2 separate regions of the Homo sapiens genome follow, and region 1 is linked to region 2. The links come from fine-mapping of genetic effects on plasma protein levels. Region 2 holds a variant in brackets. A gene starts in the other region. All regions are shown on their forward strands.

Region 1 (8,789 bases), not on the chromosome of region 2:
GTATACATTTTGGGGTACATATTTTGATATAGGCATGCAATGTGAAATAAGCGCATCATGGAGAATGGGCTATCCATCCCCCTCAAACATTTATTCTTTGAGTCACAATCCAATTACACTCCATAGGCAATTGAAATCTTATGCCTGAGAGAAAATTGGGAATAGTGCTGCCCCAATAATCTGAAGTTTGGTTTGGAACTGAGTACTGTATCAGGACGCATCAACATTATCTCCATTCTTGTCAATAATATTCTCTTACTTTAGTATAGCGAGGGTGAGTTTGCAAAGCCCTTTCATGTCCTATGACCCATTGACCCAGTGAGATTGACAAGGCAAGGATTGTTAGTATCACTTTATCAAACAAAACAAAACAGGATATAAATGGTACAGCTGGGTGTCAAAACCATTTTCTCCGATCCCTCCTTTCTCCAGCTTATCTTGCTCTCTTAACCAGGGCAGCATTTGAGGTGGGCTTCTAGGCAGATGAATTCAGTTAGAGTTTTCAGCTGTGTACTGCTGATGAAACCTGCTTCTATTTGTAGGTCTTCCCTGGGGGTAGGCTCAAGTGCTAGTTTTGGACTTTCTTCAGACTTCTGCTCAGTCTATGATACTGTACTGACCTTGCAAAGCCCTCGTAGTTCCCTGCATGAACATTTCAAGGGCAAAGTCATAAATGGCCATTTTAATGGGCTGGTCATCATCTCGAATTGTGATCCTGGGAATCAGATTCTTGGTTTTCTAGATCAGTGCTGCATAATATATGATATGAGCTATACATGTAATTTTTAATTTCCTAGTAGCTATATTAAAAAAGGAAAAAGCAGGTAAAATAAATTCTAATAATCTATTTTATTTAACACAAATATCCAAAATATTACCACTTCAACATGTAATCACTATACAAATTAAGATATTTTGCTTTTTTTTGTACTAAGTCTTTGAAATTCAATGTGTTAACATCTATTTCACATCTCAGAACTAGCCACATCTTACGTGCCTAAATGGCTAGTAGTCACTATACTGGAAAACACAGGGATAGAAAATTCTTCTAGAAAAAAATAGTGAAGAGAAAGCAGCTCCTTTCCCTCTACTGATAACAGAGAATGAGTTAGGCAGTGACCCTTATATTCTGACATTAATCATCATAATTTATCAGTCATACATCATCATAGAGAACCTCTTCACATCATAGCAAAATTACTTTCTAGTGACCTAGCAGCTTCTAGACCTTAAAAATGTTGAATAGGATTATCCATACATACAGGCGGAGAAAATAGGCTATGATAGAGATGGGCTACGAGGTGTTGCATGCTCCAAAAATATGGTCATGTATCCTGCCATATGCCTGACACACCTTCCATTAAAACATCTTCTTAACAAACTTTTTTTTTTTTTTTTTAACACATCTACTAAAATGTGCAGAAAGAAGAATAAGTCCTTCTGGGTCAGGGGAGGTAGAGAGCACAAGCATGAATAAGACATAGATGCTGCCTTCAGTGAAATTTGTGGTCTCCGAGGGAAGACAGTGGATAATGCAGGTAGGAGATAAATGTCCATTATATGATGAAAATGAAAATTGTCCAACTGGATCTTCAGAAAACCGCTGTTAATATTCCATTGTTTCTGAGTTAGAAGCACATGAAATAATTACCCTTCACTATTTACCAGTTACACAGGCATACACTGATTTGTTGAATTTGCTTGAAAAGTAGAGCCGAAGATCCTTTGAAAATGGAAGAGGTTTTCATGGGGGAAGAGATGAGTGGGGGCGAATGAGAAACATCTCCTTTATATGGCAGATGCGGCAGTTTCTTGATGATGGGGAGAAGCAGCTTAACGTATTAGGCACTAGACCCCAGCGTCCAGTGACCAGGGGATAATGCTGACAGGGAACGGAGGGCAGGAGTGAATATCGTGAACACAAACTTTGTCTATTTCAAGAGCTTTGCCCCTTCCTGGACTGACATTAAATGCTTATCTGAGCAGGCAAATACAGTGCACATGTTTACATTGGGGAGGTAGCGGAGACTAGTAGTTTAGGACCAGGGTTCAAGACTCAGCTATTTGTGTGACTTTGGAGGAAGTAATTTAATCGCTTTGTGCCCCCCCTCAGTTTTCTCATAAGTAAAAAATGGCTTAATAGGATTTAATTAGGTGCTATACAGAAAGAGTTTAGACCAATGCCTGACACATGGCATTCACCCAATAAGTGTCAATAATTATGATTCGTTTTGGCATTATTATGTCAGTAATAACTATTAGCTATGATTCTCCTCTAATTTGTTCCTAAAGTTTCATGAGACTCGATTTTATATTAAGGAATCCTGCTAAAAAGTAGACATATTCTAATAAGAATTTCCTTCAGATGGCAAAACTGGGGCAAAGAGATGAAAATGACTTGCCCAAGGGCTCAGAGGCTGCTCCTAAATGGGGAGAGAGGCTATTTAAGGCAATGGCGGTGGATTTCCCCAAAGACAAGGGTTTCATACACGTAGAGTCTGGAACGGGAGTCCAGGCTGTACCACTTAACTCGAGGGGTCATTTGGGAAGTTACCTGATTTCTCTGAGCCCTGGATTGTGCACCTGCCAAATAGATATAATAAATATACCTACAGTTGGTAAAACTCAATAGCATGACGCATGAAAACTGCATGTGGTCTGGGCTCAATAAAATCAGCCTCCCCATTGATTATTATCATTATTATTACTATTGTTATAACAGATCTTTAGGCGGCGTCAGGAAGTGCCTGTCTGGGATGCTATAATGCGTTTGGCTCACCACTATGCCCCAGCGCCTGGCACCTAGTAAACACTCAGGAAACGTTTGAGGAATGAATATACGTCATTTGAGGCAAGACAGGGCAGTCGGCTGACTGCCTCCGGGCTTAGCTCTTCCCCTCCTTGCAAAAGCCGGAGCCCTAAGCAGCGTGTAGCCCGGGAGCCCAGGCATTACTTGGCAGCGGGTGAAACCCACCTTGCCCCATTCGGAGCTCTTGGAGAGCGCCCCGCCTGGATGCGCATCTCTGTGTGAGCGGCTCTTTCCTAAGCCCTTATTTTTCTGGTTTGCGGTTTATTTACTTAAGCATTTACAGCTCCCAGGAGCAGAGGGGCTGCTAGAGGTACGGTCAGGACTGAGGTCGCGGTTTGTATTTATTTTCTGCCTCCCAATCTCAGAGCCGGCAAGTCACAACACGGCTCCTTTATTTGTGCACCGGAGAGGTCTGCCTTTCTTTACCTCCTCACGGGCGATAAAAGACAAGCAACTCGGGCTCAGAAAAGTGCTCTCACGCGACTTGCCTGTGTCTCCGCTTGCGTGGACCGTCGCTCCCAGGCTTGGTTTCTCGTGCAAACCCGAGCAGGGCGGAGCAGATTAAATAAAGACACCTCGCGCCTTTAATCCTTGACCGCAAACACTGGCGTTTTTGTGCCCCGGATTTCTGAAATTCTTGGCTCGGGGAACCAAGGCAGGGGGAGGGTGGGCTTGTAAAAACTTCCCAAAGCAGAAATCCGAGCTCCTAGCCCCTCCCCGGCCCCAGTGACACCTGGATTCCAGGGAAGGGGGGCAGCCGGAGGAGAGGCGTCCCCAAGGGTTGCGGGCGCTTCCCAGGGGTGACTTTGAACGGCTGGCTCCAAGCCCTACCGACCCCAGCCAAGGAACAGGCTCAGCAGCCTGAAAGCCTCGCAGGACGCCCCTCCCCTGTCCCCGCACGCGTCTATTTAGGGCCCAGCCCGGGCGCCCAGGGGATTCTGGGACTTGTAGTCCCTCCCCGCAGCCTCAGGCGCCGCCACGACCCGCTACTTGGACTACATTGCCCAGGGAGCTTCCCGGCCTATATAAGCCACCCGGAGCCGCTTTAAAGTGCAGTAACCATGTGGATGTGCTGCTGAAGCGTTTCCTCAAGCTCGCTGGGGTGGGAGGAGAGGAGGAGGAGGAGGTGGTGGTGGAGGAGGAGGCAGGGGGTGGAGAGAGAGAAAGCGCACGCCGAGAGGAGGTGTGGGTGTTCCGCTTCCATCCTAACGGAACGAGCTCCCTCTTCGCGGACATGGGATTACCCAGCGGCTGCTAACCCCTCTCCTCGCCCTGCTCCCCCAAACCGGCGTGGCTCCCCGGGCACCAAGGTAGCGGCTGGGGCCGGGCAGAGGGCGCGGGGAGTTGGCACTGGCTCCCCGGGCGCAGAAGTTTTTGCCCCGCTCTCGGGGAGATCTTGATGGATGTGCATGCACTTGGCATGCATTTGGGGGTTCCTTTACTGCGGGCAGTTGTTTTGGGGGGAGCTCATTTGAAGCTTAAAAAACAAATATCCTCTACTCTAGTGCGTGGCTTTGGGGGCTCCCCATTCTGGTCTGATGTGGCATTCCCCCAAGTTGGAAACTGTTGCTGCAGCTGCAGGAAATAGTTCTTTTTTTTTTTTTTTTTTTGAAGAGAGGTTGTGGGGGTGTCATATGTGAGTCTGCTCAAGGAAATAATCTTTCTAAAAATGTATCCCTCTCTTGCGCTCCGTGGTTGGGAGAATAATGCATGTGTAGGGGCCCCCCGTGGGGAGGGTTTTTAAAAACGGAAGAAAACCGGAGAAGCGGTGAGGGATGAAGTGTGGACGAAGCTCATGTCCAATGAGGATGCGGGCTTCGGATACTTGGCCTTCTCGCCGGGAAACAAGTGCTTTGGGATCTGCCAAACACTTCCCTTAGTTCCAGCCTCCCGCACGTTCGAAGTTTGTGCGTGCCTAGTCTCAATTGTCAGTTACATCCTGGAAATAAGTAAGCGTAGTTACCTGGAATCTTCGCCCAAGCGATCCCACCAACCTGCCTACCAAGTTTGGGGGCGGGGGGGCTGTCCCCAGTGAAGGAGGCTAAAGAAGGTGGAAACTTGTAATTTGGAGCATTTCTGTTAGAGCTCATCTTCCGCGGTCTGGTACTCAGTCTTCTTTCTTTCTAAATATTTAGGAGCTGACTACAGAGGAGCAGGATTTGCACCCCTCGCTGGGCTTGCTTTGGCAACAGAGTGCCTGACCCAGGTCAGGTGAGTGTGGAAGCCTGAGTGCTGTAGTCAATAATGAGTTTTTGTCCTAAGCCTATTTTAAGTTCTATCTAAACCGCCAAGGAGGTGGGGAGTAAGAAAGAAAAAGAAACTCCGTGGCTCAGTCTTCAAAATTTGCCTCTGCCTTTGGTGAGGGCTTTTGGGAGCAGAGGTCCAGTGGACAGTCCGTTTCTTGGAAGTAGCTGAGAATTGAAGGAGCCTGAAAGTTTATGAGAGAGGAGGGGAAAAGGCCATTAAATGGAGCAATAAAACGGCGGCCCATTGCCGGTCTGAAAAGCATGCTGATGATTTAAATTCTGAAGGATACAGTGCATTTCATATGCCAAAATGTGTAAGCAGTATTAACTGCCTCTCTCCTTCAAGAAATAGTCACTCTTTTCTAATTTTGAACGTGTGCTTAATCAGAGTAGGTTGGATTGCAAGAAATGAAAGTGGTTGCTGCAAGTTGAAAGAATTAGAACTTTAAAAAGGGAAGTGAGTTATTGAAGCTTAAGGTGGTAGCATCCAGCCCTTGACTCAAGCCACCTGAGTGTCAAGGAATCTGGCAGGTCCCTGTTGTTTTGGGGCCCGTGGTGGAATATGAGCTGAGAGCAGCATTTATCTGTAAACACAACAGTTCCTATTTTTTCCCCAAAATGGTCAGACTGCATTTGAAGAGTGGGAGGTTTCAACGGGTGCACGTACATCACTATTGCTGCAGATTTGGCTATCAGGAGTTTTTTCTCCTGAAATGTTCAGGAACATGGTAAATAACAGGGTAACAGAGGTAGGTGGGGGTGGGTGGCTGGGTCTTAATAACTTTTTTAACATTCTAAATATTTAGCTGTTCCCTGGGCTACAATCTTTGGGCTTTTCTAATGAGAAAATAAAAGTCAGACACTTCATTATAGTGGTATAGTGCTTTTGTTTCCTGTTGATAAGATCCTCAGGAGTACTGGCGGAGTGAGAAGCATTTGGATGTGAGAACTCTAGTTTCTTCTTGGAGTTCTGTTGACTCACATGGCTGTGTGGGTGCTCATAGAGCCAAGGATTAGGCCCAGTTCCCCTTTTCAGAATTAGCTGTACAGCAAGGAAAAACTGGTCCACAGACTCTTTTCTAACTGGTTGCTAAAAATAATAAGATGGACACATTAAGTACTTGTAAGCCAGGTCCAGAGCCATGTATCTCAGAAACCCTGTGCGTCAGATGCAGGTGAAGAAACTGAGGTGCAGAGAGTGAAATCACTTGCCCAGTAGCTAGTACAAAGTAGGAGCAGGGTGTAACCTCAGGCGGTGAGGCTGTACTGCATCCCACAAATGGACCTCAGTTGATTTGGGGATGCTGGTGGTGAGAGGGAAGCTAGGAAAAATGGTAAACTTACTGCTACTGATGAAATAACTTGCATACCTCCCACCAATGATGAAATAATACATAACATTGATGTAAGAAGGAAAGGATGTAGCCACAAACATAGGGATAAAAGAGTGCAGATATTTGAGGAGGTATTAGATACTGTAATGAGTTCATTTTGGAAAGCCTGAATGGGGAGAGTAAAAAGAAACAAAACCACAAGGAACATTATGTAAGTTAAGCATTAGGCTCACCTCCTAGCTGAAATACATCTTGATTGTTTACATCAAAGAATCTGAGTAGGTTAAAAGGATCAGGCGTTTCCCCATCTGAATAATTCGAAAGTTTAAACTGCAGTTAGACTGCAATGTGAAATGTTGATACCTTTTCATATACCTTCCAGTTTGCTTTGCAGCCAGTTGTGCAGACGTTTTTGTTCTCCATTTTTTCTTTCAAGTTCATGTGTGTGTGTGTGTGTGTGTATGCATATGTACACTGAAAGTACAATCTGCTCTTTGAATAATTCAAATCAGAACAGAAAATCCTTTCAAGATATCATTCTTATCAGGCAGGGAAAGTTCTTCATGTTCTAAGTGAATTACTCTGGCTCTTGCCTTGAGACCCATGAAAGTCATTTGGGGTTGACAATGGTATCTATTTAAACCAAGTGATTGTCTTTTGGAGGGAATTGGCATCTTTTCTTTAGGAATGAGAAGTGGAATGGTTGCTTAGAAAAAAAGAGATAGATGAACTCCACAGAAAGATCAAGAGTCTTTTCTTCAAAATATTTTTAAGTGAGGAAGATCAGGGTGTTGGTATTGCGGGGAGGGAGGAGAGTGGGCAGAGAGAAAGATAAAAAAGAAACCTTTAATCCAATGGTGTGCAACCAACTGACTTCCAGAGGGGGGAATATCACATGGCTTTTCAACTCATTTATAAAGATATCATGGAAACTGTCTGATTTCTTCATGAGCAGCTCTTAGAAAACAAACAAAAATAAAACAAACACCAAATATGAACAACAGAAAAAAACAGCCAAAATAAAAGTAGGCCTGGAGTTAGGTTTCTAGGTCAAGCTGTCTTTGGCTACATCTAATTAAGGAGTCTCCACAGGGCCAGTGTCTATCTTGTTTACTATTGGTTTGATTTTTAAAAATAAAACACATTGCATTTGCAGGCTGTCTGTTAACCAGAAGTCCATGCAGTTTTTTTTTTTTCCATTTTTGCTGTTTTAAGTTTGTGCATAGCTCAATTGATGAATGCAATTAAGGCTTGAAGTCGGTGATGTGAATGACATAACTTCTATGATTCCTTACAATTCTCTTGGTTTCTGTGGTTCTGAGATGATTGCTAATGAGAATAAGCCAGATACACCACTGAAACCGTCACCCATTCAACTTTGAGATTTCTAAATTGGATGTAGTTTAAGGCACATGGTGTGGTAAATCTATTTAACAGACTCTAAGACCTGTTCAAGTTGTGTGCGATTCAAATGTTTTATTCTTTATTCAACAAATTTCTTGAGCACCTGCTATGTACTAAGATGTATTCCAGGTGCTCAGGATATAGCAATGAACAAACCATCCCGTTCCCAAGAGGCTTACATCTCAGTTGGTGGGAGGCAGCCAATATAAATAAACAAGTAAGTATTATAGTATTAGAGGTAGTAAAAGCTATGGAGAAAAAGAAAACTGGTTAAAGGGGGAACAGAAAATAACAAGTGGAGAAATTAGATCCCTTGTGCATTGCCGGTGGGAATGTAAAATGGTGAAGCTGCTGTGGAAAACAGCATGGCAGTTACTAAAAAAAATTAAACATAAAATTACTATATGTCCCAGCAATTCCACTTCAAGGTATATACTTTAAAAAATTGAAAGTAGGGACGTGAGCAGATATTTGTACACCTGTGTCAGTAGAAGCATTATCACAGTAGCCAAAAGGTAGAAACAACACAAGTCTACTGATGAATGAACAGATAAAATGTGAAATATACATACAATGGAATATTATTCAGCCTTAAAAAGGGAATTCTGACACATGCTACAATGTGGATGAACCTTGAAAACATGCTAAGTGAAACAAGCCAGAAATAAAAGGACACATATTTTATGATTTTTCTTATAGAGGCATCTAGAGTAGTCAGATCCCTGCAGACAGAAAGTAGAATGGGGATTGCTGGGGGAGATAGAAGACAGGAAGGGGGAGTTAGTGTTTATTGAGGATAGAGTTTCAGTTTGGAAAGATGAAAAAGTTCTGGAAATGGATGGTGGTGATGTCACACAACAGTGTGAATGTACTTAGTGCCACTGAGTTATAACATTTCAAAGTGGTATATTTTATGTTATGTATATTTTACAGTAATTTTAAAAAGCAACAAAACATGATGAGGGGTATTAAGGGAGTACTCAGGTGGGGATTAGA
Region 2 (8,789 bases):
GCTTATGTCATTCAGCATAATGTGCTCATGTTTCATCAGTGTTGGACCATGTGTCAGAATTTCCTTCCTTTTTAAGGCTGACTAATCTTCCGTTATCTGCACATCTCACATTTTGTTTATTCATTCATCTATTTATGGACACGTGGATTACTCCCACTGCTTGGCTGCTGGGAATAATGCTGCTGTGTACAAATATCTGCTCGTGTCCCTGCTTTCAATTCTTTTGGGTATATATCCACCTACCGTTTTTTGATAAATTTTCTTGGAACATAGCCACACCCACCCTTTCCCTACTGTTCATGGCTGCCTTCCTACTACAATAGCAGAGCTGAGTGGTTGCAACAGAGACCCTAGAGCCCACGAGGATCAAAGAGTTCATATGTGAACTCTGAAACAGAAAAGGCTGCCAGCCTGTGATGTACAGCATTTGCTGCTGAGAGTATCAGGGGAGTTCACCAAAGTCTCTGATGTCAAGCAAGGGTTCTCTAGGGCTGGGAAGTGGCGGTCCATACACGGAGTGACTCAAACACAGGTGCGGCTGCAAGCCTAGACCTTCAGCATCTCATTGAGTCTCTGAGACGTGCTTTTTCCATAAACCTTGTCAGATGCTCCAAGAGGCCCCGTCCTTCTGTCTGACTCATGTGGTCCTGCCCTCTGCCCTCCCTTTGCAACATCAGGCACCAGGTCAGGAGTGTGAGGTTTTCATCACGGGCAAAACCAGTGAGAGAATCAAAGGTGACACAGCAGGAGGCAGGAGCAGCTGCCCAGGAACACAGGCCCATTGAAAGTCTCGTCGGCCCGGATGATGCTGCGTTTATGATACAGCCATTGCTGTCTCTCGTCCTCCCCACCCACCTAAGCCCTTCTAGGCTTCTCATCTGACCTACCACAGCAGGGTCCACCCCAGGTACGAGGAGGTTCTGCCCCTCCCCAGTGAGGGAGGCTGTTCCTTCACATCTCTGGGTGCCTTCATGGGGAAGGGGGACAGGATGCCAGGCTGTGAGGCCCCCAGGCTCACGCAGGGTCACCTGTGGGGATGTGGCCACTGGCCTGGTTGAACATGAAGGACACCTGGCTGCCCTCTGGCCCTGACTCACAGATTAGGGTGTGACAAGGACCCACAGAGATGTCCCCATTTCACAGATGAGTATACTGAGGCCCAGGGAGGTTAAGACTATGTCACACTGTGGGGCTCCCAGTTCCTAAACCAGCAGCCTCCCCATTCTGCTCACAGACAAGCAGGTGACAAAATTTGATACTAAATGACATACAGATACACGAGTAGGGTTTAAGATGACTGCCACACTTTTAGGACCTCTTCAGGGTCAAATGGACAGCGGTGGACTCAGGAAGGGGGCGGCCTAAAGACAAAATTCCAAATAATCTTCCAGGTAAAGTGAGGTTCTTTTTTTATGTGGCATTTGCCCTGATGGCAGGTGTTCCTCCCTGCTCAGCAGCCTGGACGTCCTGGGTGGCTGCTGCTTGGCTGTGGCCTCGGACGGTGTCCACACCAGGCGCTGGCTCTGCTCCCGTGCTCACAGCTCATCGACTACGCACCGCTTCTCCAGCCGGTGCCTGAGCAGCCCGCCTTTAGAATCAGGAGCGGTGGCTTCCACGGACTGCCGCTATCGGAGGGCCCTGGCAGCCTCCTCCTCCTTCCCTCGATTATAGAAGGGAGGCGCTGCCTCCACCATCCCAGGCTGCGTCCCAGTCCTGCTCAGCCCCGTGTCCTCCCCTGACCTCCATCTGCTCTTCATCAATGAATCTGACTGCTAGTCCACAAGGCATTGTCTTTGTAATGTCATAACATGAAATTTAAATACGTTCTTGTTCTCTTTGGTGCCCGTGGTATCTTCACAATGAATTAATTAGAGCCCGTCTCATGCACCATTCAAGAAAATAAACAATTTGCTGAATACAGGGTGCTCATGTTTCTTTACTCAACGTTGATAGGCGATTATATGCATTACTTGATCAAACTGATAACATCATTAGAACATCATTACAAACCTTGCTAAATGTTCTTGACCAGAACACTGGAAGGAATGAGATCAAAGAACTCACAGTGAAGAGAGTTTAATGTAGTGTAATCCTCTTTAACAAGATGCTCTGACATTTAAAAAAATATAGGTAATATGTGCACATGATACAAAACATGGAAGGTACAAAAGGGTACAGAGTTAGTGGGGAACAGCAATTCCCCCTCCTTCACCTGTCCCCCAGCCAGGGATCCTCACTATTACCGAGTGCCCCTGGCTCATTACAACAGCTGACGCTTGCTGGGCACATGCCCCATTCCAGGCAGCAAGCTTGGAGTTCAGATGAATTAATAAGCTTCATTTTCATAACAACTGTAGGGAGTAGATGTTATGACCATCCTCATCTGACTGATGGGGAAACTGAGGCACAGAGCAGTGAAACTGTTCAAGATTCATTTAGTCAATGAACAGTCAGGATTCTTCACCGTTGAACCTTCTGCCTCTCGGCATGGTTAAGATTGTTAGTTACCATGGGGAATTTCAGGCACCTTGGTCCTTGTCCTTTGCGGCAGGTTCTTTCCCAGAGAACCAGTACCCTCAGCATGTGTGCACTTTCCTTCATTTCAATAAGGAAATCATGGGAGGCCTATATTATGTTTCAGGTACATATTATTCCATTATGTCTGTATACGAGTGTGTGTGCATATGTGTGGATGTATAGAATGTGTGAGTGTTGTATACACGTGTATATACGTATGCCGGTGTGTGTGTGTGCATATGTATATGGATGTGCAAGTGTTTGTATACAGATGTATATATATGTATACAGTCATGCCTTGGCATCCGTGGGGGGCTGGTTCCAGGCCACCCTGCAGATGCCAAAATCCACAGATGCTCAAGTCCCTGATATAAAATGGCATCATATTTGCATACAACCTACACACATCCTCCAATACTTTAAATCATCTTTAGACTACTTATAATACCTAATACAATGTAAATGCTGTGGAAATAGTTGTTATACCATATTGTTTAAGGAAAAATGACAAGAAAATAGTTTCTACATCCACCATACATTTTTTTTTCATGTTTTTGACCTGAGGTTGGTTGAATGTGTAGATGTGGAACCCGTGGATAAAGACAGCCAACTGCATATGTATTCAGGCGTGTGTGTGTATCTGTGCATATACACGTGTATATACATATCCAGGTGTGTGTGTTTATGTAAGGTTCATAAACAAATGACTCTGAAACATACCAGGTAGGTCCTTGGTTTTCCCACAGTTCTCACATCCGAGTGAGCCTCCTGGGGCCACTGCTGGGTTGCCCTAACTCAGAACTCCAGATCTATGGCTCGCCACCTTCGTACATGTCAGCTTCACCTGAGTAGCTTGAGCAACCCCATGTGGGTGGGGGCTTGGCCCCAGATGGACGTTCTGGTTCCAGAGGTCTGAACAGCCACTGGGGAGGTGGGTTCTGAAATCCTCTGCGGGAGAAGCTGAGCTGTATCCAGGAACTGCATGAGATACCGAGAAGACAGGCCCAGAAGGCTGTTTCTTCATTTCCTGCCAACCAATCCTGGGTCCTTCCAGGCTCAGCTCAGCATCATCTCCTCTGGGGAGCCTCTCCCGCCTAAGGGGGTCCCAAGCACGTGGCCCCATAATGGCTGAGTCCTCCAGGGGCTGGGCCGGATCTGCACCATCTTTATCCACTGGCTCCTGGCAGGACCCCTAGGTCAGCACATAACTTCCACCACGCCAGAGCAGCATCAACAACACTGCACCCTCGCCATCCTGCACCCCAAACCTCTCCTCCTGAGGCGTTCCTTGTCTTGGTAAAAGCCACCACCAAACCTTCCCAAAGGGGGCTCTTAATGGCTCCCAAACCCGCTCCCCTCATCGCACCAGCCCTAGTGCAGGCAGCCCCACCCCTCTGCTTGGACCCTCGCTGGCCTCTTAGTCTCTCCCGTACCACCGCACTGACACTCCCACCCTGACTCCTCCTTGTCTCGGAGAATACACGACCAGCCAGGACCCCTCTCCAGCCACAGGCCTGGCCCTGCCCACACTGCCCTCTGTCATCCAGTGTAAGGGGCCCTGCCCTCACACACCGTTTCACACCCCTGTGCTCGCTCAAGTCCCCTCAACTCCTACTCTGCTTTTAACCATCCCCTCGGCTGTCACTGACTCCAGGAAGCCCTCTCAGGCCTCCCAGGCCCTGTATGCCCAGACATGGCTATGACACCCTTTGTCCTCCCTCCCTCCACCATAAGCCTTCAAGGGCAGGAGCTATGTTGTCTGTCAATTCTCAGGGCCTGGCTGTGTCTGGAACACAGAGGAGCTTGAAATCTGCCTGATGAAATGAACAGACTTCTGTCTCCAAATGACATTGGGAGGATACACAGGTCTCCCCCCATCCCATCTGTGTCCAGCTGTCCAGTGAGGCCCCGCATCCAGAGGTGGGGTGAGCATGCCCCCAGTGCCTTCTGGCCCGGGCTCTGCTGTCCTGTCTTTGAGCTCTCTCTCAGTCCCCGTCCCAGGACAGCTGTGAGGTCGGGAGGAGGCTATGGAGCCAGGCAGACCACCTCCCGGCTGTATGGTCTGGGCAAGACCCCCACTGGCCTCTCTGGTCTGAGGACTTGAGGCAGGCAAGGCCTGGCCGGGCACTCCCTTCCACTGGCCAGTGCCCTTCATTCATGGCACGCACCAGCCATGAGAAGAACTCTCGGGCGCAGGTGTGGACAAGCAGAAGCGGCTTGCAGGGCCACACAAGGGAGGGGTAGGAACCCTCACGAGGGGAAAGGCCTGGCTTGGGGTTTACAGAAAGGGCCTCCCCCATCATGTCGTTTCTTTAAATGTGA[A/G]TGTAGCTGGCTTCAAACAAAATCTCAGTGGGCGCTGCCAGCTCGGGTTCACTCTGCCAGAAAAGACTAAATGTTTTTTGAAGATCCTGAGGAATGGAGGAGGAAAGCCCAATCTACTTTACATGTTTAATTTGCAGCAAAGTCACCGAGAAGCACGCCGAATCTACCCCAAATGACATCAAATAGTTCCAAAGGTCCACCCGCCCACTCAGCTCTCCAATGGACGTGACTGCAGACACAGGTGCAGTTCGTAGCCCTCGAGCAGGCTGCGTTGTTGGTGGGGGTGGGTCGGCTAAGCGCATACTTTGGTAAGTCTGCAAAATCCCCACCCCACCTCCCCAGGCCAGCCCAGCCAAACCCTTCCACACGGGAACAGCTGATAAGCAGCCACAGAATGTCTCAATTCAAGGCCTCAGTGATGAATGGACTGCAGATGAGGCTTCTGACTTTGCAAAAAAAAACTGTACTTTATCACTCCCAAAGCCTGCCCTTGGCTGGAAACAGATGTTCCAAACCCCGTCCGCTCCGCAGCTGCAGCGTGCCTGCTTCCGGAGCCGCTTGTCTGTCTTCAGGGCCGGCATCTGCCGAGGGCCTTGGCTTTCTGGGAAGAGTCTATGTCTAAAAGTCATGGTCGTCCGAGTTCAGTTATATAATGTTATTGATCCCGGTTGGTTTGCTTAAGAAAAACACAACTAATTAGACTCTATAAAAACCTACACACCAAATTAATTCTGTATTGCTCTAGTGACTTCCGCCTGAAAAAAACGTTATAAATATAGATGACCACTGGACCTATATTTAGCCAGCACTGGATTACCTGGTATTTATAATTAAGGAAGTCCAGAAAGAGAGAGAGAGAATGGACATTTTGTTGTTATTTCTTAAAGCATTTTTTAAAAACTGCTTCCCATTTCAGTCACATATACACATAGCAACATTCTGTTATTGCAATAATTACAATCCTGACCCAAGTTAAGATGATTGCACAATTTCCCAGTCTCCTAAAATTACTTTCTTCAACACATATCCACCCAAACTATGCAATTAAGCTGTTCAACATCCTAAAAATTCCTGAGAAATCATTAATTCTTACTTAGCAAACTTCATTTTTCTCTTCCCTTAAGTCGCCAAACCAAATGGTCCGGCTTCGGATGAGAACGTTTAATTTCTACATGTGGTCTCGGCCTATATTTTCAAGGTCTACAAAAAGCTACCTGAAAAAACTACAATCCTGACTTTGAAGATCTCCATTTTAAATCATTTCCTGGTTGCAGGTTTCTTTACGGCTGTCTGGAATTAGTTGTTTTACCGGATTCCTAAATCCAATGCCTCTTGAGTATTCATTTTTGTTTTGTTTTGTTTTAATTTTAAGATAAGCTGTAAAACTCTTCTTTTTCCTGAAAAATTCCAGTCTAAAGTCATCATATGGGGAAGAACATGGTGTGTGTGGGGTGGGAAGATCCGGGGTGGCCCAGAACAAGGCACTGCTGCAACTCAGAAGGTGAGGAGGGCGCTCACATGGGGGAACGTGGAATCGAGCCCGTGGGGCTACGGGTGGGAACAGGCTACTCCAGATGTCAGTCCAGGCAGATAACCAGGCTGCCCACTCAGGGAAAGTGAAGACACAGGACATGGCAGATTGGTTACCCACAGAGCACAGATGGAACATGTTACTACATTAGGGGCCCTTACAACTGATAAAGACCGGTGGAATTCCCCGGTGTCCATGGCTGTGCTGCACGGCTCTGCAGACACAGTCCTTGTTTATGCAAAGGACACACTGGAGCACTGGGGCTGGCGGGGCCGGGGTCACCAGGTTCTCTGCGCTGGGTCAGTTGAGCTTTGCCCTGTGCATTCAATTTTTCTGTAAGTTTGTGATTGTTTCAAAAAATTGTAAAAGAAATTTTTAATTGTAATAAAACAAGGTAACCAGACCTTTTAGCCCCTTTCCCAAATAAAGCTTAAAGAATGTATGGTCTAAACTGAAGACAAAACTCTTTCTCTAACCCCATGCTGAGAAGCGGCGACAGACTGCTTCTCAGAGCTGCCCCATTCCTTCCTCCCATCAAAGGAGGGCCCGTGGGATCCAGGAATTATTTTGTAAAAGAGACAGAAAATGAGGTGTATTTCAAGGGCAGGTGACCTCTGGGGTAGGGAGGCTGCTTGAGGCCTGGCCCTGCCCCATGTGCCCAGGGCCCATACCTCACCCCCAGGCAGAGCACACGCCCCTGCTCCCCGCAGGCTGCCCCTGTGCAGCTGATGTGTTAGTGGGAATGGATTTGAGCCACATCTCCCTGCTGCTCGCTAACTTCCCTGTGCCATGTTTGGCCTCTCTAGTTGGGTGAGGTACCCCCGATGCCCACAGGGCCCAGCCTGGGACCCCATGTCAGGGAGGAGGTGAGCCTGCGGAGGCTCCAGGAACCCAGAACTGCGAGATCTCCTGAACTCTTCCAGAGAAGCCAGCATTTGGATCCGACATGCGCTCTCCCGAGTTTTTAATAATGGCAACTCATTGTACATGTTACCACCACTGTGTAGCCTGCCTAACACATGCCTGCAGGCTACAGGCAGCCTGTCGCCTGGAAAGTGGGGATCGAGACATTTGGTTGAGACTTTCCCAACTTGAGGAGGCCCACTGTTTACTTTTTTCTTTCTGAGTATGCGAGAAGTAGGGGGTGCCTTATCCTCAAGAAAGTCTCATCTAGAGAATTTGCCAGGGGAGAGAGGCTCCGGTACGAGTCCAGGTCTACTCTCAGCATAGGGCAGCTCTGCTCGTGAAGAGTGGACTGTGTCTGTGACCTTGAGCACCAAAGGCTGTGCACAGCACACCTGGGCACGCTGCTTACATCATGGATCAGAGAACAAACTACACTGAGCACCCAAGGCAGTCAGGGGGAGCCCGTCTGGCTCCTGCCAGGCCCCCTCCTGGACTCCCCAGAAAGAAGGGTCAGTGCTGGGCTGCAGCTCATGGCTACTTGGCCAAGGGAGGTCATGTTGGAGGAGGCTACAAGGTTTTTAAAAATAAGATTTTGTCTTTATGAAAGACATGTTGGAAATTCACATTTTAATACCTAAAACACCATCACTTGAGAGCAAGTTATCCCAAGGGAAATCAAAAGGAATTCTAGAAAAATTAATCTTCAAATTTTCACTTAAAAATATATACCTCCTGTACCCGAAGATGTGAAAACGGGGTTCTGAACAAATATCTGCATACCCGTGTTCACAGCAGCATTTTCCACAAAAGCCAAGGGGTGGGAGCAACCCAGGTGTCTGTGGCTGGTTGAGTGGATCGACAAAACCTGGCAGGGACACACGATGGAATATGGCTCAGCCTGAAAAAGGGAGGAAACTCTGATGCATGCTACAACACAGATGAGCCTGGAGGACGCTGTGCTCAGTGAAATGAGCCAGGCACTAAGGACGAATACTGAACGATTCTCCCTGTATGCGGTACCTGGAATGGCCAAATTCATAGAGACAGAATGTGGTTGCCAGGGGCTGTGGGGGAGGGAGGAGTGGGGAGTTGGTGTGTAAAGGGTACAGAGTTTCAGGCCAGGCACAGTGGCTTCTGCCTGTAATTCCAGCACTTTGGGAGGCCGAGGCAGGTGGACAGATCACATGAGGTCAGGAGTTAGAGACCAGCCTGGCCAACAGCGTGAAACCCCGCCTCTACCAAAAATACAAAAATTAGCCGGGTATGGTGGCGTGCACCTGTAATCCCAGCTATTTGGGAGGCTGAGGCAGGAGAATCGCTTGAACCCAGGAGGCGGAGGTTGCAGTGAGCCAAGATCACACCACTGCAGTCCAGCCTGGGCAACAGAGTGAGACTCCATCTCAAAAAATGAATGAATGAATGAATGAATGAATGAATGAATAAATAAATAAATAAAAGGGTACAGAGTTTCAGTCTGAGAAAATAAAAAAGTTCTGGAGATGGACAGTGGTGA

Alleles and levels. Alleles are on the strand shown, and positions count from the first base shown. The strength of an association depends on the size of the effect and on how common the allele is.
With allele G in place of A in region 2, the plasma level of the protein whose gene starts at base 3,862 in region 1 is lower (weak association).

The links. A credible set is the group of variants that fine-mapping cannot tell apart. PIP is the chance, under the fine-mapping model, that this variant and not a neighbour inherited with it causes the effect. Protein levels are from antibody-based Olink assays in UK Biobank. Linkage for the fine-mapping came from a reference panel and not from the study's own genotypes, which makes the PIPs less certain.
Region 1: ITPR1 starts here. The variant in region 2 is the best candidate, but not a certain one, in a credible set for the plasma level of the ITPR1 protein (UK Biobank, PIP 0.53).

What each region holds. Positions count from the first base shown.
Region 1 is chr3:4,489,487-4,498,275 of GRCh38, forward strand. It overlaps ITPR1 (inositol 1,4,5-trisphosphate receptor type 1), which reads left to right and starts at 3,862. Exons shown (of 62, transcript NM_001378452.1): 1 at 3,862-4,119; 2 at 4,945-5,020. ITPR1-DT (ITPR1 divergent transcript) reads right to left here and starts at 3,677. Exons shown (of 2, transcript NR_108075.1): 1 at 3,298-3,677; 2 at 831-1,882. RefSeq lists silencers at 3,931-4,200, 5,499-5,793.
Region 2 is chr15:101,446,267-101,455,055 of GRCh38, forward strand. The region is part of intron 1 of PCSK6 (proprotein convertase subtilisin/kexin type 6); the gene reads right to left. Among named protein-coding and RNA genes, the nearest start is that of PCSK6, 39 kb to the right of the region's middle. RefSeq lists enhancers at 4,748-5,481, 6,498-6,792. The variant A/G (reference allele first, on the strand shown) is at 4,840.